Homo sapiens: one gene and its partners. The protein of the gene in region 5 purifies or fractionates together with the protein of the main gene of each other region. This does not show direct contact. Each region holds a gene or a part of one and is shown on either strand. Other genes may lie near its edges. The genes, in order: TVP23C, PEX3, SLC16A10, HIGD1C, EDEM2, HACD1 and SLC25A16.

Evidence for each region.
Region 1: the proteins of EDEM2 (region 5) and TVP23C purify together in Homo sapiens (affinity purification with mass spectrometry, with the first as the bait; 2 studies listed by BioGRID). This does not show direct contact.
Region 2: the proteins of EDEM2 (region 5) and PEX3 purify together in Homo sapiens (co-immunoprecipitation; one large-scale study listed by IntAct). This does not show direct contact.
Region 3: the proteins of EDEM2 (region 5) and SLC16A10 purify together in Homo sapiens (affinity purification with mass spectrometry; 2 studies listed by BioGRID and IntAct, with this or other methods). This does not show direct contact.
Region 4: the proteins of EDEM2 (region 5) and HIGD1C purify together in Homo sapiens (co-immunoprecipitation; one large-scale study listed by IntAct). This does not show direct contact.
Region 6: the proteins of EDEM2 (region 5) and HACD1 purify together in Homo sapiens (affinity purification with mass spectrometry; 2 studies listed by BioGRID and IntAct, with this or other methods). This does not show direct contact.
Region 7: the proteins of EDEM2 (region 5) and SLC25A16 purify together in Homo sapiens (affinity purification with mass spectrometry; 2 studies listed by BioGRID and IntAct, with this or other methods). This does not show direct contact.

The regions. Positions count from the first base shown.
Region 1 is NC_000017.11:15,546,452-15,551,173, forward strand, and holds part of TVP23C (Golgi apparatus membrane protein TVP23 homolog C), read right to left. Parts: intron 698-4,722; coding exon 608-697; intron 1-607. Other genes in the region: TVP23C-CDRT4 (uncharacterized protein LOC100533496), read right to left, coding at 608-697.
Region 2 is NC_000006.12:143,477,578-143,482,299, reverse strand, and holds part of PEX3 (peroxisomal biogenesis factor 3), read right to left. Parts: intron 3,225-4,722; coding exon 3,102-3,224; intron 1-3,101. UniProt on the Homo sapiens protein: Involved in peroxisome biosynthesis and integrity. Assembles membrane vesicles before the matrix proteins are translocated. As a docking factor for PEX19, is necessary for the import of peroxisomal membrane proteins in the peroxisomes.
Region 3 is NC_000006.12:111,093,580-111,098,301, reverse strand, and holds part of SLC16A10 (monocarboxylate transporter 10), read right to left. Parts: intron 1-4,722. UniProt on the Homo sapiens protein: Sodium- and proton-independent thyroid hormones and aromatic acids transporter.
Region 4 is NC_000012.12:50,961,769-50,966,490, reverse strand, and holds part of HIGD1C (HIG1 domain family member 1C), read right to left. Parts: intron 1-4,722.
Region 5 is NC_000020.11:35,129,752-35,134,473, forward strand, and holds part of EDEM2 (ER degradation-enhancing alpha-mannosidase-like protein 2 isoform 1 precursor), read right to left. Parts: intron 2,033-4,722; coding exon 1,891-2,032; intron 1-1,890. Other genes in the region: MMP24-AS1-EDEM2 (ER degradation-enhancing alpha-mannosidase-like protein 2), read right to left, coding at 1,891-2,032. UniProt on the Homo sapiens protein: Involved in the endoplasmic reticulum-associated degradation (ERAD) pathway that targets misfolded glycoproteins for degradation in an N-glycan-dependent manner.
Region 6 is NC_000010.11:17,610,304-17,615,025, forward strand, and holds part of HACD1 (very-long-chain (3R)-3-hydroxyacyl-CoA dehydratase 1), read right to left. Parts: intron 1-4,722.
Region 7 is NC_000010.11:68,517,524-68,521,023, forward strand, and holds part of SLC25A16 (solute carrier family 25 member 16), read right to left. Parts: intron 696-3,500; exon of another isoform or gene 1-695. UniProt on the Homo sapiens protein: May be involved in the transport of coenzyme A in the mitochondrial matrix. Very little is known about the physiological function of this carrier.

The DNA of each region.
Region 1 (4,722 bases), on a different chromosome or scaffold from region 5:
CTTTCTTAAAATAACTTGTCAATACCCTTGGTGTACTGTCGCCAAGAATTTGGTCCTCTGCTTCCAAAACTTATTTCCACAAGGAAAGTGAATATTCACTATAGTGTAGCAGGCTAACCCAAAACAGACCAGGATCCCCAGGGCTCCTGAAGGCAGAAGCTTAGGAATAGAGTGCTCCAATCAGATATTCTATCCAGCTGCACTCCTCCTCCTTTTTCCTGCCCAGAAATGAAAGACGACCACAGGAGCAAAGACAGAACAAGATGTTAAAAGCAGTTATCTGCTGAGCATAGAGGGATTTATGGAGACACTAACAAAGGCAACACAGAGATCTTTTATCAGCAATCCCTGACAGGCAGCTTAGCACACTGTATGAACTCAGACCCAGTGTCTTCCCTCAAAGGATTCTGTTCGTATATTGCTTGTTTCTGGTCTGAACTAGACAGAAAAATGCATTAAATTCTAGAAGGCCATCTCCTTTAGTGCTGACATGCCAAGTGATTTGGTATAGTGTTTTTAATTCTGAATACTTCATCTTCCAGTATTTAAATATAGTCTACAAATAATTTAGCTGATAACATTATTTAAAACAAAAAAGGCACTTTACCTTTCTAGATTCAAACACCCAATGGCTCTTTCCATCTTCATCAATGTGATTCCACCAACGTAGGCCAACCATTAGTCTACCTGTGACATTCTGGTGAAGATTAATATAAACAGGCACATTTTAAAAGCATTATTTAAAGATCTGTCACAAGCTCCTATCTTAGTGTAACATTTCACAAACAAAAACCTTCAGCTTTACCTCCATAATATCCAGTTAGCAAAGACTACTATGTATCAGGCCTGGCTAAACGATTAAGTAAAATGGTAATGGCAGGACTAATAGGGGTAGAGGTGACAGAGCAAGCAACAAGTCCACCCATAAACATTACACCTTCTCTTTTCCCTCATGAACAATTTGCCCTTTCTCCAGTTCCCTAATTTTCCCTAAACCCCTTGCTATTTGGTTACTGTGACCTACTTTACATCCTGACTATAGCTACATATATTTTACAACTACATATCCCTGAAAATGATTATAGACACTGGCCTTCAGTCAGTCTCTCAAGTGTACCAAGCTCTTTTCCTACTTACTAAGGTAACAAATTAGTTTGATAGCTTTCCTAATCTTTATTTACTCAACAAATATTTACTGAGCATCTACTATGTGCTGGTAATACAACAGTGACTAACAGATACCAACTCCTTCCTCAGGGAAAGAGGTGAAGAGAGGCAGACAACCAATGCACAAATGTACCATTACCAACTGAGTTAAGTCCTGCAAGGGAAAAGTGTGGGATGCTTGAAGAGTATAACAGGGAAATTTGATCTAGTCTGGGTATCAGAAAATGACTCTCTGAGGAGTCAACATTTGGAATGAAATATAAAAGATAAATAAGAATCAACAGTACCATGGATGTTTAATTAATGGTGTCCACTAATAGATTCAGTGGTTCTGTGAACCTCGATGGGTAAAAAAAAATGTTACCTTCATTTTCATTAACCTCTGGCTAAAATTTAGCATATCTTTAAATTATGAATGTAGACAACAAACTATGAATGTAGGTAAAATTAAAAACACCCTGACACAATAGAAATCACAGGCATTTTTTTATTTTGTACTATATTTGCTGCAGTTACCTCAAAATATTGTAGTTTTGTTTTTTGTTTGGTTTTGTTTTTTGTTTTTGAGACAGAGTTTCGCTCTTGTTGCCCAGGCTGGCATGCAACGGGGCGATCTCAGCTCACCACAACCTCTGCCTCCCGGGTTCAAACGATTCTCCTGCCTCAGCCTCCCAAGTAGCAGGGATTACAGGCATGCGCCATCATGCCCAGCTAATTTTGTATTTTTAGTAGAGATGGGGTTTCTCCATGTCGGTCAGGTTGGTCTCGAACTCCCAACCTCAGTGATTCACCCGCCTTGGCCTCCCAAAGTGCTGGGATTACAGGTGTAAGCCACCACGCACGGCCTCAAAATACTATTTATGCTCACCACTGCTTTGAAAGTAGTTAGCATATCATTAAATTATGAATGTAGACAACAAACTATGAACATAGGTAAAATTAAAAACACCCTGACACAATAGAAACCACAGACATTTTTCATTTTGTACTATACTTGCTGCAGTTATCTTAACATATTGTTTATGCTCACCACTGCTTTGAAAGTAGTTATTAGACCTGCCACTAGATCTTACCATTAATAAATTCATAAAGTATAGTAGTCCTCCCTTATCTGCAGGGGATACATTCCAAGACCCCCAGCAGATGCCTCAAATTGTGGTTAATACCAAACCTTATATATGCTATATTTTTTCCTATAAGTACATACCTATGATAATGCTTAATTTATAAATAATGCACAGTAAGAGAATAAGAAATAAAAATAGAACAATTATAACAACATAATCTAATAAAAGTTATGTGAATGTAGTTCTCTCTCCTCACACAGTATCTTACTGTTTAGCGTAGCATATAGCAGTACTGAAACCGCAGAAAGCGAAACCTCAGATAATGGGGGAACTACTACACATATAACTCAATCAGAAATTTACTTTTTTAATATTTTTAAATTATATTTCAATATAAGTGACTTCCTTTGAAATCTTATGTATTTTATATATGTGAAAACTTATTCATGAGTTTATGAAAGGGGCCCATGGCATAAAAAGATTAGGAATCCCTGTATGAAGGTGATGTGGGAGGAAGAAGAGCATTCCAGATAGAGCAGCAGGCACTGATGCCCTAATGAAGAAAGTACAATCTATGGATTTATGGGACTTGGTCATTAATTGGATATGGAGTAGGAAGGAGGCAACTGATACATTTACGGTTTGCTCAAGTAAAAAAATAGTGATTCCAGGCCCCACGAAAGGGAACACTCAAAGAAGAAGAGCTTTTGGGGAGTGGAAGATGACAAGTAGTATTTTACACATGTTAAGATATAAGATGCCTGGCCAGGCATGGTGGCTCACTTGGGTTCAAGACCAGCCTGGCTAACATAGTGAAACCCTGCCTCTACTAAAAATACAAAAATTCGCTAGGGATGGTGGTGCATGCCTGTAGTCTCAGCTATCTAGGAGGGTGAGGCAGGAGAATCACTTGAACCCCGGGAGGCAGAGGTTGCAGTGAGCCAAGATCACACCACTGCATTCCAGCTTGCGTGACAAAGCAAGATTTTGTCTCAAAAAAAAAAAAAAGATTTGAGATGCCTTCAAGACAGCCACATAAAAACGTCAAGAAGACACATGGAGAGGCCTTAAGTTGTGAGGACAAACCTGAATGGAGATACAGATCTGGGAGGCAACACAGCTTACAGATCAGCAATTCAAACCAGAAGCACAGACAGCACTCCTTAGGAAGGGAATACAGGAGAAGAAAAGGAAGAGTCTTATGAGACCAAAATTCCTATGGGAGAGATGCTAAGTAAAAAAAAAAAAGAGCTGGCAAGGGAGACCTAAACCAGAGGTCTCTTCTATAGGTATTTTCAAAGAATGCTCTCAGAATACTTTCAAACTCTTCTGTTTCCATTTTCTAACTCTTTATTTCCTGCTTTTATCTTTATTAGTTTATTTTCCTGATTTCTCACACTTATTGCTTGTTTTTGAAATTTCTGGACTCAAGTAGTCCATTATTTTCCCTCTTTCTTGTCTAAAATAAAAGGCTTTAGTCTATTATTTTCCCTCTGAATTCAGTTTTTGACATATTCAGAAAGTTTAACTGTAAATGATCACCATTAAGGTATAAATAACTTATATTTACAGTTTTTGCTTCCTTTTAAACCCAAGATATGTAGTAGTTCGCTTTTTTAAAAGAATTCCAATTTCAACAACTACTTTCTATTAATTTCTAGTTCTGTTTCTTTGGAGTAGAAAATGTAGGTGCTTTGGGCAATTTTATTTTGATTTTCTTCACAGTGATATTTAGTCAATTTTTGTAAATGTTCCACAGGCATTTAACAAGAAAGTATTCTCTCTGTCATACAAAGTCCCAAATACTGCTATCAAATTGATGTTGCCAATTATTTCATTCAGATCCTTCAGAACTTATTTATTTTTTGGCACTTTGGTTTGTTTAAGATAGTAGTTTGTTAAACTCATCATAATGCTTTTCTATTTTCTAATATTTCCAATTTTTTTACTATACATAGTTTGATATAATTTTACTCTGTGAATGATCTTCACTGTGATTCATAAAATCACCTTTTTTTGTTCCTCTTAGTGCTTTCTTACTCTGATCCATATCTCATCTGATAATAATACAATGCCAAGTTTCTTTTTGTTTGAGTTGATCTTTGCCTTCTTTTATTTTTGCCTGATGTTATCTTTGCCTTCTTTTGTTTTTTCTAATGTCATTAATTTGGTTAGATCTTTTGTTTGGACTTTGATTTCTGACCAATCTTAGTATTCTTGTCTTTAAATGGGTAGTTTAATCAAATTACATTTCCTATTATAATGAATTTGCTATTACTTACATCACTTTATACATGTACTCTCTGATTTAAGCTTCCTTGACAGTTGCTTTGTTTTCCTTCTTTTGCTCTATGAACTGTTTTACTTGCTCCATCTTCTCCAATGTTGCAGAAGATACACGACTGGTTTTAAATTTTACTAATAGTTGCCATTATTGTTTTTTTTTTTTGAGATGGAGTCTTGCTCTGTTGCCCAGGCTAGAGTGCAG
Region 2 (4,722 bases), on a different chromosome or scaffold from region 5:
AGAAAACCAACGGTCAACTAACAGTTTATTAAAATGGTAAGAACACTCAGTAAATTGTCTATTTTCTTTCTTTTTTCGCTATCCAACAGTAAAAGTTACCTATTTTCAAGATATAAGTATAGAAAAAAATCAACAGCTTTCCTTAATTGAATCTCAAAATTGGTCTTCTCCTAGCCTTACTCCATTAGATAGAATAATAGAATGATGCTGAATAATCTGTCAATAGTGACCATCTTTATACTGTTTTTGAACTTAATGGAAATCATTCCAGTTTTACTATTAAGTATATTTGCTTTTGATTTCAAATACTCTTTTTTTATATATTTTTTTAAGAGACAGGGTCTTATTCTGTCACTCAGACTGGAGTACAGTGGCATGATCATAGCTCACTGTGGCCTTGAACTCTGGGGCTCAAGCAATCCTCTTGGTGGTTTTAAAAATTTTTGTAGAGACAGGAGTCTTGCTATATTCCCCAGGCTGGTCTTGAATTCCTGCCTCAAGCAATCTTCCTGCCTTGGCCTCCAAAAGCATCAGGATTACAGAAGTGAGCTATCATACCTGACTCAAATATTATTTTATTATATAAAAATGTATTTTTTATTTCTAGTAAGAGGTTTTATCCATAATAAATGTTGTTTTATTGAATGTCTTTTCAGCAACACTGAAGATAATGTTTTTTATCTTATTAGCTTATTAATGTTATGGATTACCAAAATAGCTTTTCTAGTTTTAACCCTCCTTACATTCTTAAACCTTAATTAATCATAGTGTTGGAGAATAATTAAAAATTTGGAGAAAAATTTCTATCTCAGATAGACATTATTGAACAACTGGCTTTACCACTTGACCTGAAGTTATTTAATTTTTCTGTGTCTTAGTCTCCTCACCTGGAAAATGAAGAATACTAGTACGTATTTCCTAGGATTATTTTAAGAATTCAATGAGAGACATTCTGAAAAATACCTATCATCAAACTAGCACATGGAAAAAGTATTAGCTGCTATTATTATTGTAATATACTTCTGGATTTCATTTTGCACTTTTGACTTTTAAATATCCATTATACATTATATTACATGCATATGTAATACATATAATACATTAATACATATATGTTGCATATATATTTTATATATATATATATATATATAAATTAAAGCCTTTATTAGTTTACCTCATTTTTCAGTTGATTCTCTTCAGAGGTCTGGCTTATTAATTATAATACACGTAAATAATATACTTTGTGTCTTTGCCAATAGTTAAAAACCTTACTTCTTTTTTTGGGGGGGCAGGGGGGTCTCACTCCCTCGCCCAGGATGAAGTGCAGTAGCACAATCACAGCTCATTGCAGCCTTGACTTCCCGGGCTCAGGTGATTTTCTCACCTCAGCCTTCCAATTAGCTGGGACTACAGGCATGTGCCGCATGCCCAGCTAATTTTTGTATTTGTTGTAGAGATAGGGTCTCTCCCTATGTTTCCCAGGCTGGTCTTGAACTCCTGGGCTCGTGCAATCCACCCACCTCAGCCTCCCAAGGTGCTGGGATTACAGGCCTTAGCCATTTGTTTTTTCTTGACTTACTATGATGGCTAGACTTTCACAACACATTAAACAATGATGACAATAGGCTTGATGGAAATGTTTCTAGGGTTCAATCATGGAGCATGAAGTTGGTTATTGAGATGAAACAGAAAAACTTATATAGAAAATATCTACTGAGTGCCTTGTATGAGTAAAGAGACATGAAAGGGCACAAGATAGTTTTTGACTTTTGAGAGGAGGCTTAAAATGTAACTGAGGAATAAAACTCCAATTCAAGGTAGCACATGTAGGTTGTACATGAAAGTACAGATAATGATTACTATAGTTCAGAAAAGAAACACTATCATGGCTGTTGTGGCTGTAGTATAATTTTTACAATTCTTCAGTGTACAAAATCAAGTATTTATGTTAAAATAACCATTACAATTATGTATCACTACTTGCAAAATAACGAATATCTTGCTATATACAGATTATGGTGAAATTTTACTAATTGGAGCACCTTGATTTATACAGTATATAGGATTGGTCTTGAGCTGAAATTTATTTTTGTATAACTTAAAATTTTTTTAAAGATTTTATGTTGATATTTAAATTACTTCAGAGAATATACTTTATGGCTGTAAGCATTCCAAATGCTTAATGTCAATGTCAAATTAATCTTTTCTCTACAATAAAGAAGGGTCTCAGAGAATCTGGTAAGTAACTTCTGGCCCTATGTATTTAAGAATTAAATTGGATATTGCACATACATATTGCCTATCAATTACTGTGTCCCCAATTAAAAAAAAAATTTTAAAGCTACTTCAAAGGATGTGTCTCAAATTTTAATGAATGAGTTTACAGTCAGTCAACATTAATTTAGTACCCATTATTTTCCGAGTTTGACATAAAAAACTGCAAAATAGAAATCCTTAAAGAGTATAAATTCTAATATGAGACCAAAGATATTTGTGTTGGGATAACAAAGATATAAAAAACCGTAAGATACCTTATGGCATACATAAGTCCATGATTTAGTAATAGTTATGATTAAAATCACTAACAATTGCACTAATACATGTTCCTAATTCTGTAATAAGGACTGGAATGAATACATTTAAGCATTTGTAGAACTATAAGGAGCTAATTCATCAAATGAGAATCTATACCAACAATGCCCGGGTATTATAAGGAACAAAATATTGAAATATGCAGACCAAAATGGCCTGCAGTAATGGAATAACATTAGAGAATGCATTAAAATTAAAACATATTGTGAGTTTTGTATTCTAAAGAGTTAAAAAAAAACAATAATTGGAATTCAACTTATAGAAAGGTAATTACAACTAAAGTACTTCAATATAGTGGCAAAGTTTCTGGAAGACTCCAAGTTTTAATACTGAAACCAAGAAGGAGCTTCTGCTAGTGAAGAAGTTGTTGGTTTAACAGAGTTTAATTTGTTAAAAAATGAGGCACTCAAATTTAATAGGTTTGTTGTTGTTATCTGGAACAAAAAGACAAGCAAAGCACCATTTTTTTAGAGCATTCATTAGTATAACATTTTTATATGTCATCTTACCTATTCATAGAGTTACCATGTTGCAGGTCCTGTTCAGTAGGTCGAAAGAACTCAGCCATATTGTCTAGAAGTCTACTAAAACCTCGGTTTAAACAGGTATTCAAAACTGTACTAAAATCTGGGCTATATAAAGTAAGAAGTATAAGTTACTTTTTAGACTCTGAATGGAAGAGAAAACAAATTCAGTAATAACGTGGTTACCTTTGAAAGCCACCAACATTTCTAGTCATAATCTAATACTGTAAAATATATCAAGAAATCAATCTTTAAAAAGTATTTAAAAATGAGCTTATTTAGCACAACATAATGAGAATATTCATCCACTTCAGATTTTTTATACTAGTCAGCACTTTGTACAATGAATTTTTTAAAAAATATCAGTACTAGTACTACTAATTTTGAGGAAACTCTTAAATTTCCTTATAGTCATAGATTAGTTGGCTTTACATCCTCTAGCATGATATTTCAGTGAGACAGAAAATATTATTGTGTACAGATGAGGAAATGATACTTGAGGGATGAAGAAGCTTGACGAAAGGCCTGTGATTAGTAAATTGGGGAGCTCAAACATGAGACCGGGGTTTTTTGATCTTAATTATACTCTCTTAGTTCCTCACAAAACTCTTTAATATAAAGAATAATATATAAAGATGCCAAGAAAGCTAGAAAATACCTAGTTATGTTCCAATTTCTTGACTACAGTGTGCATGTGTATGTGTGTATCTTTCTATCTACCTACCTTTTCTCCTTAGTCATCTCTATTTTAAAAGCATTTTAACGGCTTTATTGAAGTAGGACTTAGAGGGCATAAAATTCACCCATTTTAAATGCACAAGTCAATGATTTTGAGTAAATTTGCATAGTTGTGCAACTATCGCTACAATCCAATTTTAGAACATTTTCATCACCCACTAGGCCCATTTCCAGCCAATTCTCATCTCAGTCTTAGCCCCAGGTAACCATTAATCTACTTTTGGTCTATATAGTTTTCTGGACATTTCATAGAAACAGTCATACATATGTGGTCTTTTGTGTCTGGCTTCTTTCACTTAGCATGTTTTGAAGGTTCTTCTATGCTGTAGCATGTATCAGTGGTTTGCTCCCCTTTTTTGCTACATAGGGCTCCATTATATGAATACATCAGATTTTATCCTTTTGTTAGTTAATAGAAATCTGGACTGTTTCCACTTTTTGGCTATTGTGAATAATGCTGTTGTGAAAAATCTGAACAAGTTTTTGTCTAGAGATGTTTTCATTCTTTTTGGTAGATACCTAGGAGTGGAATTGCTGGGTTGCACGGTAATTTGGGCTGAACTTTATTCTTTTAAAGGTAATATGGTAAGGTTCCAAGAAGAAAAATGATTAAGGGGATGAAAGTTGAAGAAATGGAAACTGAAGAAAAGATCATCATAGTACCTACCTCCTAGGGTTACTGTAAGGTTTAAGTGAGTTAAGATAGATAAAGCAGTATAGAACAGTGCTTGCTGCATAAGCACTCAAAAATGTTAGTTTTTATTCTTATTATTGAATTGAATTCATTTAGGCCAATGAAAGAAATGAGAAATAGGTGAGCTTGCTTCCTATTTCACACACATAAAAATAGAAGCAAAGAGAACTTCCA
Region 3 (4,722 bases), on a different chromosome or scaffold from region 5:
TGAGTTTCACTCTTGTTGCCCAGGCTGGAGTACAATGGCATGATCTTGGCTCATTGCAACCTCCAACTCGCGGGTTCAAGCGATTCTCCTACCTCAGCTTCCCCAGTAGCTGAGATTACAGGCATGCGCCACCATGCCCGGCTAATTTAGTATTTTTAGTAGAGACAGGGTTTCTCCATGTTGGTCAGGCTGGTCTCTAACTCCGGACCTCAAGTGATCCGCCCACCTCGGCCTCCCAAAGTGCTAAGATTTACAGGCATGAGCCACGGCACCCGGCCTCCATCAGGTTTTCAAAGTGCTGGGATTACAGGTATGAGCCACCCCGCCCAGCTGCAATTTAATCTTTAGCAAAAAATAGGTACTAGCTGAACTGTAGACCAATGCACCTTTCCGTAGGTGCAATGGACTTTTATCCATTAATTTAATCATTGACCTTTCATTTAGACTTAACTATCTAAAGGATACCTTTAATTGAATTTAAAACTCCTTAGTGAGTGATTCTTAAGTGGAGGCACTGGAGGAGGAAAGCGGCACAGCTCCCCTCACTCACTAAGAGGCATAGATCAGAAGTTCTAGAGGGGTACATTTACTAATTTTTTTAAAGCACACATTCAATATTATAATTCTGTATTTAAAGAACAAGAAAATAATTCTAATTATATCCACAACATAACTAAAAGTAAAGCTTGGCCGGGCATGGTGGCTCATGCCTGTAATCCCAGCACTTTGGGAGACTGAGGCGGGTGGGTCACCTGAGATTAGGAGTTCGAGACCAGCCTGACCAACATGGCGAAACCCTACCTCTACTAAAAATACAAAAAAATTAGCCAGGCATGGTGGTGCGTGCCTGTAGTCCCAGCTGCTCTGGAGGCTGGGACACGAAAATCGCTTGAACCCAGGCATCGGAGGTTGCAGTGAGCCGAGATCACGCCACTGCACTCCAGCCTGGGCGACAGAGCAAGACTCTGTCTCCAAAAAAAAATACAAATAAAAATTTAAAAAATAAAAGTAAAGCTTGACAAAATTTTGGCTGATGGATAAATACAGAGTATGACATTGTCTTCTGCCACTCACAAGGAAAGGCAAACTACACTTGGATGTGTGCAACAAAATTCTGAAGTACCATGAGACTTTTATGTTTATCAAGAGGGGACAAAGGGAGTTACAAACACTGTTTTGGGGCCAGGCACAGTGGCTCAAACCTGTAATCCCAACACTCTGGGAGCCTGAGGTTGGAGGATCACTTGAGCTCAGGCATTTGAAACCAGCTTGGGCAATATAGAGAGACCCTCCCCCACAAAAAAATTTTTAAAAATTAGCCAGGTGTGGTGGTATGTGCCTGTAATCCCAGCTGTTCAGGAGGTTGGGGCAGGAGGATCCCTTGAGCCCAAGAGGTTGAGGTTATGGTGAGCCATCACATCACTGACTGCACTCCAGTCTGAGCAAGAGAGCAAGACCCTGTCTCTTAACAAAAAAAAGAAAAGAAAGAAAGAAAGAAAAAAGATTCACTGCTTTGGTCCACAAAGGAAACATTGCTTTGGTCCACATTCAGTATTTCTAATCTGTATTTCATACTTATGCCCATAATTAAAAATTAGTGAAATGAAAAAAGACTTCTTACTTGAAAATAAGGCAAGCCATTTCTTCATCGACTTTTTTTTAGTTCCTATATGCAAGGTGAGGAATTACTTTTGCTGTTAAAGAAGGCACTTTAACAAAGAGGTATGATCATACACATTTGGCATGTACATTTGAAAGCACTGCTTTCCTCCATTCCTCCAGCCACTGATAGGCTATCTGTCTTATGTGGTGGGTCTGCGCAGTTCCCAGGTGTGCTGGAGTTTCCTGTTCTGAATCTCTGCCAATAAAAACATCCACAGTCCCTGCGTGGGTGGCACCAGGCCAAGGCAGGTGCTCAGAACTGTGGTGAGCTGACTGTTCATGTTATGTTTAGGGTTTAGCTTGTTTTTGTTAAGGTTTGCTTGTTTAATTTGAATATAAGACCAGATTTCTAGCTAGGCGGTGATAACTCTGGAATTCTTTTCCAAAAATGACATCACAGCATTTCTGATGACTTGAGTAGGAGACACTATTGAGAGAATATTCTAAAGAACATGCAAGTAAATATGTAGTAAATAGTTTCAGGCTGGGGACAGGAGTAGGATTCTACTTTCAGGACAACTTTGACATAAGTACAACTTTTTTCCAGCCAAAAAGCTGCTCTTAAGTTCAACTTAATAAAAGTAAATACTGATATCAATCCTAATACTGTGCAAGTTGCAACTTTCTTATCTATCCATGGAGGTAATGACATACCACAAGGCTACTCTAAAAAATAATGTACATGAAAGCCTTTTCTTTATGGTAATGGAATGTATTACTCCATTTTCATAGTGTTATGAAGAAATATCTGAGGCTGGGTAATTTATAAAGAAAAAGAGGTTTAATGGACTCACAGTTCCACATGGCTAGGGAGGCCTCACAATCATGGTGGAAGGTGAAAGAGGAGCAAAGGCATGTCTTACATGGCAACAGGCAACAGAAAGTGTGCAGGGGAACTGCCCTTTATAAACCATCAGATCTCATGAGACTTATTAACTATCACAAGAACAGCACAGGAAAACCTGCCCCCATGATTCAATTACCTCCCACCAGGTAATTACCTCCCTCCCATGACAAGTGTGGATTATGGGAGCTACAATTCAAGATGAGATTTGGGTGGGAACACAGCCAAACCATATCAGAGAATATAAAAATTACCACTTTAACAAATATGGATCATCTTTAAAATGGCTTTCACGGAATGCTTTATTAGAATAGGTTGAAATCAGGTTCTCTGTCTACCACTTTAAACATAATTTGTAACTTATTTGAATTCGTTCTCAAAACTCCAAAATGTAGCTACCCCCAATATTCCAAGTGCATCAAATACATAACAATTGCATAAAATCACTGTTTGTGTCCCAGGATTGTGACATAAGAATAAAATGGCCAACCATTTCATCAGAATCTCACAAGGACCAACCATCGCACTGAAGACAGGAGTGGCACACACAAAGGTACAGAGGCAAAAAGCAGCAAGACAAATTTGGGCCAGTGTAACACCTACAGGTTGGCTAGAACACAAAGACCAGTAAGGGAGAGAAGCAGGGGCAAGGCTAGAGGGCCAGGCAAGGGCCAGAGCTTGCAGGCCTTCGGAGTAGGGAGTTTGACATTTTCCTAAAAGTAATGAGTGTCACTGGGCATTTAAACAGAAAAATCATATGGTCCAATCTTTTAGAAAAATCACTCAGATGTACAACTGAGGACAAGCAATCCTGTTAAGGGGTTATGACTAATTGTTGCCAATAGTAATGAAGGTGGCCAGGCACAGTAGGTCCCGCCTGTAGTCCCAACACTTTGGGAAGTTGAGGCAGGAGGGTCGCTTGAGGCCAGGAGTTCAAGACAAGGCTGAGCAAAATAGCAAGATGCCATCTCCACATAAAAATTTTTTTTAATTAGCCGGCCATGGTGGCATGTGCCTGGTGTTGCAGCTACTCAAAAAGCTGAGATAGGAGGATTGCTTGAGCTTAGAAGTTTGAGGCTGCAGTGAGCTATGATCATGCCACTGCACTCCAGCCTGGGGAACACAGTGAGGCCCTATCCCAAAAAATAAAATAAAAAGTAAATGAAGGCATGAATTAAGACACAGTAGTGAAAGAAAAGTGGGACTGATTTATGAGGCATTAAGAAGGTAAACACAAAAGAACTCTGATTTAACAAAACAGGTAAGGAAGGAAGAGAAATAAGAAGCTAAGATACATTCCAGGTTTCTGACTTAAACAACCAGAGGTATCATGCACAGAGAATTAAGAAGGAGGAATATGGATTCAGAAGAATGCCGACAAATGGGCTGTCATTTTTGGTAGTAAGGGAAGGTTGTATGGTGTAGCTGAAAAATGAGTTCATGTTAGTTTAGTATGATGTACCTGTGTACCCAAATGGAACTGTCCAGAAATAGTAAATAAGTCTTGAACACAGTGATGAGATTTGGAAATAACAGCCCCAAGACAGTGGATGGAAGAAAGCAGGAAAAGTGAAGCAAGTATATGGCCAGGGGCTGAGCCTCAAGGAACTGCAACAAAAAGATGTAGCAAATCACATCAAAAGCAGAGTACAATTTATTCTAAAAGACACCTCAAAATCGCTCCTGAAAAAATGTGTTATGCTTTTCATTTTGGCTAATTGGGTTCTTTCAGCAGTTAATTTTATTGAAATTATTAATTTTTAATTCCATGAAAAAACACCACAGGAATCTCACATTGTTGTATTTAATTAGAATTCACTATATATGCTATTCAGTCTCGCACTTAATCCAGAAACATTCTGGAAATGAAGTATGAAACGCCCATACCATACTCACTATTATTCCAAAATCCTAGAACCATTTTTATAATCTTCTCACTTATTTTAGCAGGTAGTTTAGATTGGTTTATTGCCATAAGTGAGTTCTCTTAGCTTTTCTACCTCTCTTCCAGTGTAAATAACAATCAGGTATTTTTCTTATAGTGAAAGATGTATAGGACCATGAACCAGATTATTTGTTCACTGTAACTAGCTCAACAAAGGACTGTTACTAAAAATTTTTCTAAGATACAGAAATGGCTAGTTATGCAGGCCGCTTTTCCTACTAAACAAAACAAAATCTCTTTAGCGTAAAGGCAAAACATAGCAGTTAATTTC
Region 4 (4,722 bases), on a different chromosome or scaffold from region 5:
ATCTCTTGGGTGGAGACCAGGGATGCTGTTAGGCATCTTGCAATGCATGGGACAATCCTCCACAACAAAGAAGAATCCAGCCCAAAATGTCAGTAGTGCTGAGGTTCAGAAACTGCCACAGAGGTAGGTATCCAAAGGATTAGGGAGATTGGTATGTTAGAGTAAATTTATCCTGCTTACCCACTCCCTAAACTAAGGTTGTGAGAAAGACATTTGTCAGGGTAGCCCTGACAAGAGTCCTGTGGTGACTGTTCTCTGTATGCCAGAAATGACAGTGCAAACTGCTGGGCTCCCTAAATTCAATGGGGATGATGGGATCCTGAGGCTGTGGGGGTCAAGTGGTAGCATTTGATTGACAAAGACAAGGAAAGCATGATTGTTGTGATGGGCAGCAAAGCCTAAGTGGTCATCAGAATAGTCTAAGTAAGCCACAGAGATCTTTGGCATTGGCTAACTGATTATGGTATCCCTAGAACTGAAACTTATGGGCAGAAGCAGAAAAGCTCTAGGTTTGGTGAACAAAAGTCTAACTTGAATCACCACAATAAAGAGCCAGGGCTCCTTGACCAATTCCTAGAATTGAGTCATTTTCACAGGCCCAGAAATCCCTTGAATGAAGAGGGAGCCAGATCCCCTTAAGGAAAGACCATGTTCGACAGACAAAAATAGATGTAAGTCTTCCTTCTAGCCTTTCCCAAAGGGGACCTGTGCTCATTTACCAGGGTACCTGTTCACCAAGGAAGGGAAAAGAATCACATTTATGGGGGATTTTTGAATCCTGGTTCTAAATTGACACTAATCCATACTTTGGTAGAATGAGTGTGGCCTACCAGTCAAAGTAGGGGTTTGTGGAGGTCAGGTGGTTAATGGAGTTTTGCTGTGGGTCTGTTTCATAGTCAAGCCTGGTGGGTCACTGAACCCACTCTCTGTTATTCCTCAGTTCTGGAATGTGTAATTGGAATAGACATACTCATCAACTGTCAGAATTCTTACACTGGTCCCCTGACCTGCAAAGTAAGGGCTATTATAGTAGGAAATACCAAGTGGAAGGAAAAATAGTAAACCAGTGGCTGGGCACGGTGGCTGACAACTGTAATCCCAGCACTTTGGGAGGCTGAGGTGGGAGGATTGCTTGAGCCCACCAGGTGAAGATCAGCCTGGGCAATGTAGCAAGACTTCACCTCTACAAAAAAAAAAAAAAAATTAAAAATTAGCCAGGCATGGTGGTGCACACGTGTAGTCCCAGCTACTCAAGAGGCTGAGGTGGGTGGATTGCTTGAACCCAGGAGTTTGGGGCTGTAGCGAGCCATGATCATACCACTACACTCCAACTTGGGTGACAGAGCAAGACCCTGTCTCAAAAAACAAAAACAAAAAAACCCACAAACATAAAACAAAAGCATTACCCTACTCCTAGAGGGATTGTAGAGATTAGTGCCATCATCAAGGACTTCAAAGATGCCAGAGTGGCTAGATGCAATGGGTCGTGCCTGTAATCCCAACACTTTGGGAGGCCAAGGCAGGAGGATTGCTTGAGGTCAGGAGTTTGAGCTTGGGCAACATAGTGAGACTCTGCCTCTACAAAAAGTCTTTGAAAAAAGATACCAGAGTGGTGATTCCTAAAACATCCCCATTTAGTTTGCCTATTTGGCAGAAGACAGATGGATCTTGGAGAATGATACTATTCCTATAAACTTAATCAGGTGGTCACTCTGCTATCCAGATGTGGTTTTGCTGCTGGAGCAAATCAACATAACATTTGCTTTTTGGTATGCAGCTGTTAATCTGGTTGAATGCTTTTTTCTGTATATCTTTTACTAAAGATAATCAGAAGCATTTGCTTTCACCTGGCAGGGCCCACAGTATGCTTTCACTGCCTAATATCAGGGCTGTGTGAACTCTCCAGCCGTATGTCATAATCTAGTCTGCAGGGACCTTGATCATCTCTTCATTACACAGGACATCCCTTTAGTTCATTATATTAATTTGTTCTGAACATCAAGGGGAAATTGGAATGCATTATATCTTTTAGGGCACTTCTTGGTACTCCCATGTCCTGTGATTAAAGACAATGGAAAACTAAATCCAACACAGGCAGGATGCCTAATAATCCAGGTTAGGCATGAAGGAATGAAGGTTTGGGTCACCCCACCAGTCAAATAACCATGAGTAGCCAAGGTACTTGCTGAAAGCAAAGGGGATATGAAATGTGTAGTGGATGAATATAGATATAATACTAGCAATAACCATCTGACCAGCTGCAGAAACAGACTGTGATATTTAGGAGTGTTTCTTCCTTATTTTGATATGAATGCATTTATGTATAGATTAGCCCAATTTTTTTCTATTCCCCACGTCCATTTACCTATCATCTAACATAAGAAGTGTTAATAGGATTCAACCTTATATCTCAGGATTTAAGTCATAGGATATCAAAGGGGAATGTGATTCAGCTCAAAGAGGAATCATCATCATCCAAAGACGTATGAAGGGATTCTGTATCCTCTTTTGGGAGATAACTAGCATGCTTTTGGATATACAAGGGGTGGCTGATTTTGACACTGTCTTTATTTGGAAGTTAAGAGTAATTAATAGAGGTATATATGGATGTCAAGTTGACAAGGGCTGGACAGTGGTAGGCTTATATTATGTCAGTTGAAGTAGCCTGTAACTGCATTTTCCAGAATTCCTTTCCTTTTATTACCAGGGTTAGTGCAAAAGAGACATCCTGTATGAGATTTAGAAGGTGGAAATGATGCAGCAGTCGAATTCTTCTTATGTCTGGAAGACACTGTTGCGGTACAGTTTTGCTTCTCTGCTGGCTCACTTTATTGGCAGGGTTCAGCAATCATGAGCACAGCCACCATGGCTCCTGCTGAATTTTCTCCTTCACCTTCTCTGACCCCTTTGCCAGCTCCATGTTTAGCCCCAGGATGAAAGGCATTGGCATTTTCTATATTTCACCTCCGTCAGTGAATGTGGAGGCTTGGAGATGGCTGAAAACCCACAAGGGTTCCAGTCTGTCCTGTGTATTGTTCTAGCTCATCTTTGCAGGTTCTGGATTTTCCTTGCTTCTACTTTCCTTTCTTTTCTTTTCTTTTTTTTTTTTTTTTTTTTTTTTGAGATGGAGTCTTGCCCTTTCACCCAGGCTGGAGTGCAGTGGCGTGGTTTTGGTTCACTGCAGCCTCCGCTTCCCAGGTTCGAGCAATTCTCCTACTTCAGCCTCCTGAGTAGCTGGGATTACAGGCATGCACCACTACTCCCAGCCAATTTTTGTATTTTAAGTAGAGATGGGGTTTCACCATGTTGACCAGGCTTGTCTCAAACTCCTGACCTCAAGTGATACCCCTGCCTCGGCCTCCCAAAGTGCTGGGATTACAGGTGCAAACCACCATGCCTGGCCTACTTTCCTTTCTTTTCTAATTCCTTTCCCGGCTCACTTCAGGCCCCAGCTCCAGATTTCATAAGCAAGAGCCTCATAATTATATAAGTTCAAATACCTGTAATAAATCCCTCATTAAACATTACTACTAGTAGTGTTGCTTTTCTCCTCAAACACTGATTCGCCTACCAAGCTATGTAGAGTTCCACTTACATGCCATGCTTCTGTGCCTTTGTTTTTTCCTCTGCCTAGAATCCTGAGGTCCTTCTCTGCTTAGTTAATTCCTCCTTATTCTTGGTTCAGTACATGGTTTACATCCTTAAAGAAGCCTCCTCTGGCCTCCCAGCCCTAGTTAAATACCACTCCCTTGTGTTTGTGCTTCCATAGCAAAAAAATTTTTTTTTCTTTTTTTGAGATGGAGTCTTGCTCTGATGCCCAGGCTAAAGTGCAGTGGCATGATTTCGACTCACTGCAACCTCTGCCTCCCAGGTTCAAGCGATTCTCTTGCCTCAGCCTCCCAAGTAGCTGTGACTACAGGCGCATGCCACACCTGGCTAATTTTTGTATTTTTAGTAGAGATAGGGTTTCACCATGTTGGCCAGGCTGGTCTTGAACTCCTGACCCTAAGTGATCCTCCTGCCTTGGCCTCCCAAAGTGCTGGGATTACAGGCATGAGCCACCGTGCCTGGCTTTTTTTTAGATGGAGTTTCACTCTTATTGCCCAGGCTGGAGTGCAAAGGCATGATCTCGGCTCACTGCAACCTCCACCTCCCAGATTCAAGCGATTCTCCTGCCTCAGCCTCCCCCAAGTAGCTGGGATTACAGGCATGTGCCACCACACCCAGCTATTTTGTGTGTGTGTGTGTGTGTGTGTGTAATTTTTTTAGTAGAGATGGGGTTTTGCCATGTTGGCCAGGCTGGTATCGAACTCCTTACCTCAGTTGATCTGCCCGCCTCGGCATCCCAAAGTGGTGGGATCACAGGTGCAAGCCACTGCGCCCAGCCAGCCTGTGCTATTTCTGTCACGGCATCTATAACTTTATATTGTCTTCTTTCTTTCTTGGTCTGTCTTCCTAAGGAGACTAAACTGTTTAAGGGTAGGGACTGAGTCATATTTCTAAACAGTGTCTGGTACATAGCAGGCATTCAATCAATGTTTGCTGAATGATGAAAATGAGGACTGTAACTTTGTAGTAAGGCTTCCTGTATTTGGAGCACATTACAGCTCACAGTAATAAGATTATTACCACGTAACTTTCCTTGCAAGCCCCATGCCCATCATTCTGTAATTTCCATCCTACGCAGGATGACTCCACTCTGCACGTCATGAAGGGGACTTA
Region 5 (4,722 bases):
CCTTTTATACTGTATTTGTACTGTACTTTTTCTATGTTTATATACATACTTACCATTCTATTACAATTGTCTATAGTATTCAGTAGAGTAACATGCTGTACAGGTTTGTAGCCTAGGAGCAATAGGCTACACCATATAGCCTAGGTGTGTAGTTGGCTATACCATCTAGGTTTGCTTAAGTACACCCTATGATGTTTGCACAATGATGAAATCACCTAACGATGCAATTCTCAGACTATATCCCTGTCATTAAGCAATGCGTGACTACTGTTTTCCTATACATACACATCTATGAGAATTCTTAATTCATTAAATTTTTAAAAATTTTTATTTTTGAGACAGGGTCTTACTCTGTCACCCAGGCTGAAATGCAGTGGTATGATCACGGTTCACTGCACCCTTGACCTCCCAGGGTCAAGCAATCCTTCACCTTGGCCTCCCAAGTAGTGGGGACTACAGGCACGCACCATCATGCCCAGCAAATTTTTTTTTATTTTTTGTAGAGACGAGGTCTCACCATGTTGCCCAGGCTGATCTTGAACTTCTGGGGTCAAGCAATTCTCTCGCCTCAGCTTCCCAAAGCACTGGGATTAAAGGCATGAGCCACTGTGCCTAGCCGAAAAAGTTTAATTTATAAATTAGGCATGGGAAGAGATTAACAACAATAACTAATAATAAAGCAGAACAAGTATAACAATATATGTTATAGAAGTTATGTGAATTTGTCTTTTTGGTAAGAGACAGGAAAAAAAGAAATTATGTAAATTTAGTGCCTCAAAATATCTTTGTTTTTTTAGAGAGGGGGTCTTACTATATTGCCCAGGCTGGTCTCAAACTCCTGGCCTCAAACAATCCTCACTTCCAAAAAACTGGGACTACAGGCGTGAGCCACTGCACCCAGCCTCAAAATATCGTATCTGACTGTACTCACCTATTTTCAGACTGCAGTTGACCATGGATAACTGAAACCATGGAAATCAAAACTGTGGATAACGGGGGACTACTGTAGCTATAATAATAATAGTAATTAGGTGCTCAACAATTCCTCAAGATTGCTAGTGTCTAAGGGCCTGGCGGGTAAGATGTATTTATTCAACAGGTATTAATCTATTACCTACCACATGTAAAGCACTGTGGGGAACATAAGATGAGTAAGGCATGGATTCTGCATTCAATTTGTAGAGCTGTAACTGTTGATGAGAGCTAACTGCAAGAAAGATGCTGAAGGTCCCAAATTCTGTAGAAGGATCAAGCTACTTCCTGGGCAAGGCGACATTTAAGTTAGGCTTTGAAGGGTGAAAAGAATTTGGACATAGGAAGACAGGAAAAAAGACATTCTAGGCAAAGAAGATGCCATGTGCAATGGCCAGGAGATAAGAAATCCAGGGCTACATACACAGAATGCAGCACGCTTCAGTTGGCTTTTGCAAGAAGGCATCAAGTGCTGTAGTGGGCATGAAGTGGGCAGTGTAAGTCCATAGTGACTCTGAATTCAGAACTGATTCTGCAGGCACTCAGGCCAGGCGTGGTGGCTCACACCTGTGATCCCAACACTTTGGGAGGCCAAGGCGGGCAGATCACCTGAGGTCCGGAGTTTGAGACCAGCCTGGCCAACATGGTGAAACCCCGTTTCTACTAAAAATACAAAAATTAGCTGGATGTGATGGTGTGCGCCTGTAGTCCACACCATCACATGCCCAGCTACTCAGGAGGCTGAGGCATGAGAATCACTTGAACCTGGGAGGCAGAGGTTGCAGTGAGCCTAGATTGTGCCACTGCACTCCAGCCTGGGAGATGGAGCAAGACTCTGTCTCAAAAAAAAGTTTTTAAACAAATCACACATCAGCAAGAAAAATGAGGGGAAAAGCTCCCTTACTCTGCCATTTTTACCTAGGAACATGGCCATGAGCTTCTTATCCTGAAGCAGGATGGCTCCTTTCACCAAGTACTCAAAGTAGGAGTCCACGCCAGCCCCGATGCCTGCGTCCTGGGCCACCCACTTGCCAGTGAGCACATCAATGTGGTTGCCGACCTGAGAGAGAGAAAGACACACGGTCCCAACGGGAAGGCCGATGGCCAAAGAAGGATCTACTCACCCCCAACCCTGACTGCCCAGGGAGATGCAGGGCAGGTGCCCCAGTGCTTCTTGGGAAACATGCAGACCCTGAGAGGGAAGGGCAATGCTGGATCATGGCCAGCCTTCCTGTACATCTGCATAGTAGAGATGCATCTCATGCACATTTATGAGGACTTAATTATACACATTGAGCAAAAAATGAAAAAGAAAAATGATTTGGAGTGTTTATGTCCTGCCTAGAGTGAGTGTGAGATGGGAGATGAGAATTTGCTGTTGCCGCAATCTGTCTGATTTCTCAGCACCCAGCATGTGATTCCACTATCTGAAGACACAGACGTGCTTTACGTATTTCCATAAATTAACTCAATAAGAACATCCACCAAGAAGCTGACAGAGTGGTTCTAAGGAGAGAAACCGAATAGCTGGAGACAGGGGCAAAAGGGGACTTCACCAATGTCACTGAGTACCCTTTTTTGTATCCTTTGACTTTTTTTTTTTTAATTGTTCAGTCTCTGTAGAGACTGTGAAAAATTGGCAATGCCGGCCAGGCGCGGTGGCTCATGCCTATAATCCCAGCACGTTGGGAGGCTGAGGGGGGCAAAATCACTGGAGGTCAGAAGTCCGAGACCAACTTGGCCAACATGGTAAAACCCTGTCTCTAATAAAAACACAAAAATTAGCCAGGCATGGTGGTGTGTGCCTATAATCCCAGCTACTCAGGAGGCAGAGGCATGAGAATCACTTGAACCCAAGAGGGGGAGGTTGCAGTGAGCCGAGATCGTGCCACTGCACTCCAGCCTGGGCGACAGGGGGAGACTCTGTCTCAAAAAAATAAACAAAGATACGTATTTTTCTATTTTATTGTATTTATTTTATTTTTTGTATTTTTAGTAGAGACATGGTTTCTCCCTGTTGGTCAGGCTGGTCTCGAACTCCCGACCTCAGGTGATACGCCTGCCTTGGCCTCCCAAAGTGCTGGGATTACAGGCGTGAGCCACTGCGCCCAGCCAAATATATGTATTTTTCATATGGCTTAGACCCTCATGGAAGCTGGTAACTTCATCTGGTACTCAAAGAAATAGCTAACTGTTCCGCGTTGGTTTGTGTCCCCCCAGGAGCACAACCTCATTCTGCCTGAAAGTAGTTGATTTGGAAGGTAAGTCCTTGTAAACACCAGTAGAGGAGGGGGAAGTGAGGCAGGGCAAGGGAGGCGGCATTTAAGGGGTATGCCATCAGGCAGGTTTCCACCATGGGAACTGGAGTTCAATCTTGCTGGGGAGCTTAGGAATTCAGTGTAGAGCTCCAGCTTCGGAGTGATCCCACCCAAGGGGCAGGGAACTGGAATGTTTATCCACCAACTCCCATCAGTATCAGTTACCGGCTTGAGAGCTACTCATGGGTAGCATTAAATCCTGGTACCCTCAGCCAAAGGCAAGCAGAGTGGCTCCAGGCACCAGAGGAGACCCACAGGCAAAGAGGCGCAGGTGATGGCAGTTGGAAGACTGGCCAGTGTGCATGGAAATGTTAAGAGTTGAGAGGATATGGGCATGGCACCAACAGAGTCTACTACGGTCCCACTGCTGGAGCAAAACCTGCCTGAGATGGACTAAGGGATTTACTACAGGTCTCCAGCGGGGCACCTTTTTTTTTTTTTTGAGATGGAGTTTCGCTCTTGTTGCCCAGGCTGGAATGCAATGGCGCGATCTCGGCTCATCCCAACCTCCACCTCCCAGGTTCAGGCAATTCTCCTGCCTCAGCCTCCCAAGTAGCTGGGATTACAGGCATGCACCACCACGCCCGGCTAATTTTGTATTTTTTAGTAGAGATGGGGTTTCTCCATGTTGGTCAGGCTGGTCTCGAACTCCCAATCTCAGGTGATCCGCCCGCCTCAGTCTCCCAAAGTGCTGGAATTACAGGCGTGAGCCACCGCACCCAGCCTTAGGGGGGCACCTTCTTAAGGGATTTTCGGGGAGTCCTCACACAAGCTTTACTTTTCAAGCTGGATTAGCACCAGACTGCATAAAATGTGCCTAGACCTAAATGCAGTCTTCCTAAGTCAGAGTGACTCAGCAAAGTTGGTATTAATATATTAACGTTACTGCTGAAGTAACTGAGGACCAGAGAGGTTGAGTGACTTGCTCAGGGTCACACAGTTTCGATGTAGCAAGGCCAGGGCTTGAATCCAGTTCTGACTAAATCCAGTGTTATGTCCTGGATGGCTTTGGCTCAATTACTGTTAATCTTATTGATTATCCCATTTAGAAGCTGAAACTGACCTTAGAGATCATCTGGTCCAAAGTGTGTTCAATTTCCATGGGTTAATAGTACTGGAAGATAAAGGGAAGCTCTGGTGTTAAATAAGTTTGGGAAATGTTAAATTAAACAAAGTTGAATAGATTTCTTTACTAGAGGATTTTTATTCTGCTCATGTGCATTCTGACTCTCCAAAAAAGGGGGGGATATTATATCTAATATTCCCCTAACTTAATTGGCCAAGACTCATTTTTTCATGCAACTGCCACTCAGTATCTCTCAGAACCGGTGTCCTAAGAAACACAGCAAATACAGATAGACGCTAAAAATGAAGGCCGGACGAGCTGATGATCTGAAGCCGTCAAGTGAGTCAGGGGCATGAAACATACGAC
Region 6 (4,722 bases), on a different chromosome or scaffold from region 5:
AAATCATACTAAGTATACTGTGAAAATATCTTACTTTCTCTTTCTGCAAGAAGTGCAATTTTAGGCCAGGCGCAGTGGCTCACACCTGTAATCCCAGGATTTTGGGAGGCCAAGGTGGGTGGATTGCTTGGGCCCAGGAGTTCAAGACCAGCCTGGGCAACATGGCAAGACCTTGTTTCTACAAAAAATTTAAAAATTAGCCAGGTGTGGTGGCACGTGACTGTAGTCCCAGCTACTCGGGAGGCTGAGGTGGGAGGATCACTTGAGCCTGGGAGGCTGAGCAGTGAGCTGAGCTGGTGCTACTGCACTCCAGAGCCAGACTCTGTCTCAAAAAAAAAAAAAAGTACAATTTTAAATAAACCACTAGGAATAAAAATGAACATTTGTAAACATCCACTGTGCATCAGGCATCCTGCTAAGAACTTCATATCCATTATCTCTTTATTCCTTTATAATCTAGCTAAGTAGTTGTGCTGTTCCAACTTTACAGATGAGAAAACTAAGAGTCAGAGAGGTTAAGTAGCTTATCTGAGGTTACCCAGCTACAAAGGAATGAGACACAACCTTTAAACAACACCTTTGTGTATTGTGTACAGACTAAAATCCAAACATGTTAGCAAAGCATCTGAGGCCCAGTGCAATGCCCCAAGCTACCTGTCCGCCTTCATTTCCCACTCTACACTTCAGGTCCTCTTCTTTTTTTTTTTTTTTTTTTTTGAGACAGTCTCGCTCTGTTGCCCAGGCTGGAGTGCAGTGGCATGGTCTCGGATCACTGCAACCTCTGCCTCCCGGGTTCAAGAGATTCTCCTGCCTCAGTCTCCCGAGTAGCTGGGACTACAGGTGCACGCCACCACACCCAGCTAATTTTTTGTATTTTTAGTAGAGACAGGGTTTCACTGTGTTAGCCAGGATGGTCTCGATCTCCTGACCTCGTGATCCGCCTGCTTCAGCCTCAAGTGCTGGGATTACAGGCATGAGCCACCGCGCCCGGCCCAAGCCCTCTTCTTGATGCCTCAACAGATGTCTTGCAATTTCAGATCTCTGTCCTCTAACTCATGCTGTTTCCCCACTTATGCCTACTTAAGTCCTTCACCGCTCAGTTTAAATGCTGTGATCTCTCACAGAAAACTTTCTCTAATTCTCCCTACCTGTCTGTCCTCTGACACATCTGCTTAGCACTTATCTCATTATTTTATTGCAATTGTTGTTTATATATTAATGCCCCAGGTTACCCTGCTTCAAGGACAGGGCCTAAAGTATTTGAAGGACAATGCATTTATATATACGGGCACAAAAGTATTTGTCAGAAAGAAAGAGAGAGGGAGGGAGAGAAATGCTCACTTCCCTATTATGAGCAAGTGCCATAAAAATCCTTACATCTGGCCAGGTGTGGTGGCTCACGCCTATAATCCCAGCACTTTGGGAGGCCGAGGCAGGCAGATCACGAGGTTAGGAGATCGAGACCATCCTGGCTAACACGGTGAAACCCCGTCTCTACTAAAAATACAAAAAAATTAGCCAGGCGTGGTGGGGGGTGCCTGTAGTCCCAGCTACTCGGGAGGCTGAGGCAGGAGAATGGCATGAACCCGGGAGGCGGAGCTTGCAGTGAGCTGAGATCGCACCACTGCACTCCAGCCTGGGTGACAGAGCGAGACTCTGTCTTGAAAAAAAAAAAAATCCTTACATCTGCCAGGCATGGTAGCACTCACCTGTAATCCCAGCTACTCATGAGGCTAATGCAGGAAGTCACTTGAGCCCAGGAGTTTGACGCCAGCCTAGGCAACAAAGCTAAACTCCATCTCAAAAAAAAAAAAAAAAAAAAAAAAACCCTAAAAAATCCTTACATCCTTTAAAGGTGTAATTCTTCTTCCAGGAATTTATTACACTAAGCCACGAATTGAACAGAAACAAATAAAAGCAAAATGTCGTTAGGCGCATGATTTAATCCATTATTGTATAATTAATTCTATACACTCAAATGTAACTGTCAAAAAGTATAATTATGAAAAACAGATGAAAACCTGACAGACTATTAAGTGAAAATGGAAAAATATACAATACAGCAGATATTATAACAGCAATGCTGTAATACATTCACTCATTCATTCATTCAAATATTTATTGAGTACTTCTTGGAGTTTACACTCTAATGGAGATGACAGACAATAAGCATTGCGAATAAGTAAAATATATTGTACAATCATATGAAAGAAAGTGGGATGGAGAAAAATAAACAGGCAAGGGAGATAAGGAGTATGTGTTTCACTATTCAAATTAAGATGACCAGGTAAGGCCTCCTTGAGAATGAAGTTTTGAGTAAAAACTTGGAAGAGGGGGCCGGGCGCGGTGGCTCATGCCTGTAATCCCAGCACTTTGGGAGGGCGAGGCGGGCGGATCACGATGTCAGGAGATCAAGACCAACCTGGCCAACACGGTGAAATCCCGTATCTACTAAAAATCCAAAAAAAATTAGCCGGGCGTGGTGGCGGGCGCCAGTAGTCCCAGCTACTCAGGAGACTGAGGCAGGAGAATGGCGAGAATCCGGGAGGCGGAACTTGCAGTGAGCCGAGATCTCCCCACTGCACTCCAGCTGGGTGATAGAGCAAGACTCCGTCTCAAAAAAAAAAAAACAAAAACAAAAACAAAAAAACTTGGAAGAGGTCAAATATTCATATGAAAGATAAAAAGAAAATGAAAGTGTGTGATAGGCTGATAAAATAACAAGCTGTATTTTACATTTATGTAAAATTTTATAATATTTCTTAAATACTATTCCGTTGCTTTGCAATTTGGGGTGTGTGTGTGTGTGTGTGTGTGTGTGTGTGTGTGTGTGTGTGTGTGTGTTTTGTTTTTGAGATGGGGTCTCGCTTTGCTGCCCAGGCTGGTCTTAAACTACTGGACTCAAGCAATCCTCCTGCCTCAGTCTCCTGAGTAGCTGGGATTACAGGTGCATACCACTGTTCCCCACTTGTTTTGAAAATTATTACAAAAAAATTAATAAACACGCCAAAGTTCTGTTAACAGAGAAATAAGTTAAATGAACAAAAAGAGCCTCAACTAGTCTTCTGCTGTCCACCCTATAAAACGTGTAAGTTCTTGTCCCGATTTCAACACTACAACTTCTTCAACCTTATTTACCACTATTCCCCAACAGCACCCTCCAGTTCAATCAAGAGAATACATCAGGCTTGCATATCATGCCTATTTCCAGAATTTATATCACCTGAAATGTCTACTCTCTATGTATGCAAATCTTATTCCTTCTTCAAATCTCACCGCCTCTAGAAAGCATCTGAAGAGTCAGTTACAGAGATTATTCCATTTCAATATCCCTTATTTTTGTAAATATGACAAGGAAACTTCTCAGTAGAGGCAGAAGGAGACAAGTTTAGAACAAGCCCTGATTTGCCGGGGAAGGGTCAGAGGGACAGAATGGAGAAAGCATTTAATTCTGCACCAGGTAAGGCAGGAGACCCGGAAAACTTCAAAGAGGTAGATTTGATTAGAAGTCATGGGAATAACAGGAGAACATTATACAAAAGTGAAAAACCTGAGCACAGAAGCAGAGCGCTGTGAAAATACATGGTGCTTTGAGGGACGAGTGAGTCAGAGATATCAAATGCAAGTTGACTGGAAAGGGGAATCGGGAGCAGATTGCAAAAAGCCTTGAATGGCAGATAGCCTGAATCCCTTAGATCAGGGTGGAGGTGGCAGGGAGTCACTGAAGTCTTTAAACTGGAGCTATGCATTGATGTTCATTTTTGAAATATCAGTTGGCTTTCAAGACAGAGAGTCAACTGAAAAGAGAAAGGACAGACACCCAGTTAACACAAGGCAGATATTTCAAAATGTTCACTGGCTGGGCACGGTGGCTCACACCTGTAATCCCAGCACTTTGGGAAGCCATTGTGGGAGGATCACTTGAGAACATCCTGGGCAATATAGCAAAAACCTGTCTTTACAGAAATTATTATTATTATTGTTTTATTTTTTTGTGTGAGACAGAGTGCAGACTGGAGTGCAGTGGCACGATCTCTCAGCCTCCTGGGTTCAAGCGATTATCGTGCCTCAGCCTTCCAAGCAGCTGAGATTACAGGCCTGTGCCACCATGCCCGGCTAATTTTTGTATTTTTAATAGAGACGGGGTTTTGCCATGTTGGCTAGGCTGGTCTCAGGCGATCCACCCGCCTCAGCCTCCCAAAGTGCTGGGATTACAGACGTGAGCCACCGTGCTCGGCCTACTCTACAAAAAAATTTTCAAATTAGCTGAGGATGGTGGTGTGCGCCTGTAGTCCCAGCTACTCAGGAGGCTGAGGCAGGAGGATTGCTTTGAGCTTCGGGGTTGGGGCTGTAGTAAGCACCACTGCACTCCAGCCTGGAAAACAGAGCAAGGGCTTGGCTTAACAAAAGAAAAAAAAAGGAAATAACAAGGAAACGTTTATTTTATTTTATTTTATTTTATTTTTTGAGACGGAGTCTCACTCTGTCGCCCATGCTGGAGTGCAGTGGCGCGATCTCGGCTCACTGCAAGCTCCCTCTCCCGGGTTCACGCCATTCTCCTGCCTCAGCCTCCGGAGTAGCTGGGACTATAGGCGCCCGCCATGGCGCCCGGCTAATTTTTTGTATTTTTAGTAGAGACGGGGTTTCGCCGTGTTAGCCAAGATGTTCTCGATCTCCTGACCTCGTGATCCGCCCACCTCGGCCTTCCAAAGTGCTGGGATT
Region 7 (3,500 bases), on a different chromosome or scaffold from region 5:
CTCCTTTTATAAAAAGGTGAATAACAGGCCAGGCACAGTAGCTCGCACCTGTAATCCCAGCACTTTCGGAGGCTGAGGTAGAAAAATTACTTGAGACTAGGAGTTTGAGACCAGCCTGGGAAACACAGTGAGACCTCATCTCTACAAAAAATTTTTTAAAATCGGCTGGGCGCAGTGCTTCATGCCTGCAATCCCAGCACTTTGGCAGCTCGGGGCGGGCAGATCTCCTGAGGTCAGGAGCTCGACACCAGCCTGGCCAACATGGTGAAACCCCGTCTCTATCAAATATACAAAAAAATTAGCAAGGCATGGTGGCAGGCGCCTGTAGTCCCAGCTATTTGGGAGGTTAAGGCAGGAGAATCCCTTGAACCCAGGAGGCCGAGGTTGCAGTGAGCCGAGATCACACCATTGCACTCTAGCCTGGGCGACAAAGCGAGACTCCATCTCAAAGAAAAAAAAAAATTAGCAAGGCATGGTGGTGTGCCTCAGTACTCAGAGACTAAGGCTGGAGGATGACGTGAGCCAACAGTTGGAGGTCACGGAGAGCTATAATTGTGCGGCTTCGCTCCAGCCTAGATAACACAGCAACACCTGGTCTTTAAAAAACAACAAGTCCGGGCACGGTGGCTCACGCCTGTAATCCCAGCAATTTGGGAGGCCGAGGCAGGCAGATCACTTGAGGTCAGGAGTTTGAAACCAGCCTGGCCAATATGGTGAAACCCCATTTCTACTAAAAATAAAAAAATTAGCCGGGCATGGTGGCGGCTGCCTGTAATCCCAACTACTGGGGAGGCCGAGGAAGAAGAATCTCTTGAACCCAAAAGGTGGAGGTTGCAGTGAGCTGAGATCACACCATTGCACTCCAGCCTGGGTTACAGAGACTATGTCTTAAAAAAAGAAAAAAAAAGAAAACACAAATAAAATTTTAATTTTAAAAATCCATATTCTGAGATATCCAAAAATAAATTGTGGCTGGGAGCCGTGGCTCATGCCTGTAATCGCAGCACTTTGGGAGGCCGAGGCGGGCAGATCACGAGGTCAGGAATTCAAGACCAGCCTGGCCAACATGGTAAAATCCCATCTCTACTAAAAACACAAAAATTAGCTGGGCATGGTGGTGCGTGCATGTAATCCCAGCTGCTTGGGAGGCTGAGGCAGAAGAATTGCATGAACCCAGGAGGCAGAGGTAATAGTGAGCCGAGATCGCACCACTGCACTCCAGCCCGAGCAACAGAGCAGGTCTCGGTCTCAAAAAAACAAATAAAATAAATAAATAAATAAATAAATTAAATAAATAAATAAATAAAATGTATTTTTTACTCAGATATTATATCCACTATGTTTCCATATCAAAGCTCTCTTATCCGAACTAATGAAAATAATAGTTGGCCAGGTATGGTGACTCATACCTGTAATCCCAGCGCTTTGGGAGGCCGAGGTGGGCGGATCACCTGAGGTCGGGAGTTTGAGACCAGCCCGACCAACATGGAGAAACCCTGTCTCTACTAAAAATACAAAATTAGCTGGGTGTGATGACGTGTGCCTGTAATCCCAGCTACTTGGGAGGCTGAGGCAGGAGAATCACTTGAACTTGGGAGGCAGAGGTTGTGGTGAGCCGAGATCACACCATTGCACTCTAGCCTGGGCAACAAGAATGAAACTCCGTCTCAAAAAACAAAAAAAGGCTGGGCGCAGTGGCTCATGCCTGTAATCCCAGCACTTTGGGAGGCCGAGGTGGGTGGATCACGAGGTCAGGAGTTCAAGACCAGCCTGGCCAAGATGGTGAAACCTTGTCTCTACTAAAAATACAAAAATTAGCCAGGTGTGGTAGCGGACACCTGTAATCCCAGCTACTCGGGAGGCTGAGGCAGAGAATTGCCTGAACCCGGGAGGCAGAGGTCTCAGTGAGCTGAGATTGTGCCACTGCACTCCAGCCTGGGTGACAGAGTGAGACTCCATCTCAAAAAAAAAAAAAAAGTAAATCATAATCATAGCTATCCAAAATTATGGGTAAACTAAAAATAATATGCATTTGGATACATTTGGTTTCAGAATATTTTATATTATCTTCTCAGTTGTGTATGAATTAACTGTATAATGAATTATTTAGGCCAGGTGCAGTGGCTCTCGCCTGTATTCCCAGCACTTTGGGAGGCCGAGGTGGGCAGATCATCTGAGGTCAGGAGTTCGAGACCAGCCTAGCCAACATGGTGAAACCCCATCTCTTCTAAAAATACAAAAATTAGCCAGGTGTGGTGGCACATGCTTATAATCCCAGATACTTGGAAAGCTGGGGCAGGAGAATCGCTTGAACCCGGGAGGCATAGGTGGCAGTGAGCCGAGATCATGTCACTGCACTCCAGCCTGGGCGACAAGAACGAAACTCCGTCTCAAAAAAAAAGAGAGAAATTGTTTAGAATGTATTCAATAAGTACTTTTATATAATAGTATCTTTTTTTTTTTTTTTCCAGGGCTGGAGTGCAATGGTGCGATCTCGGCTCACTACAACCTTCACCTCCCAGGTTCAAGCGATTCTCCTGCCCCAGCCTCCCGAGTAGGTGGGATTACAGGAACCCACCACCTCGCCCAGCTAATTTTTTCTTTTTTTAGTCTTTAGTAGAGAGAGGGTTTCACCATGTTGGCCAGACTGTTCTTGAACTCCTGATCTCGTCATCCACCCGCCTCTACCTCCCAAAGTACTGGGATTACAGGCATGAGCCACCGCACCCAGCCTATTTAATAGTATCTTAACTTGCTTTCACACTACGATAGTCCCCCCTTATCTGCAATTTCACTTTCTGCAGTTTTAGTTACCACCAGTCATCCATGTTCAAAAAATATTAGATAGACAATCTGTAAATAAACAATTGACCCGGGCACAATGGCTCATGCCTATAATCCCAGCATTTTGGGAGGCCTAGGTGGGAGGATCACTTGAGGTCAGGATTTCAAGACCAGCCTGGCCAACTTGGTGAAACCCCGTCTCTACTAAAAATACAAAAATTAGGCCAGGCGCAGTGGCCCACACCTGTAATCCCAGCACTTTGGAAGTCCGAGGCAGGCAGATCACCTGAGGTCAGAAGTTCGAAACCAGCCTGACCAACATGGAGAAACACTATCTCTACTAAAAATACAAAAATTAGCTAGGCCTGGTGGCACATGCCTGTAATCCCAGCTACACGGGAGGCTGAGGCAGGAGAATTGCTTGAATCCAGGAGGCAGAGGTTGCAGTGATTCACAATTGCACCATTACACTCCAGCCTGGGCAACAAGAGCAAAACTCTGTCTCAAAAAAAAAAAAAAAAAAATACAAAAATTAGCCAGGCGAAGGGCCAGGCATGGTGCCTCACATCTGTAATCCCAGCATTTTGGGACGTTGAGGCGGGCAGATCGCAAGGTCAGGAGATCGAGACCATCCTGGCTAACATGGTGAAACCCCGTCTCCACTAAAACTACAAAAAATTAGCCGGCATGGTGGCACGTGCCTGCAGTCCCAGCTA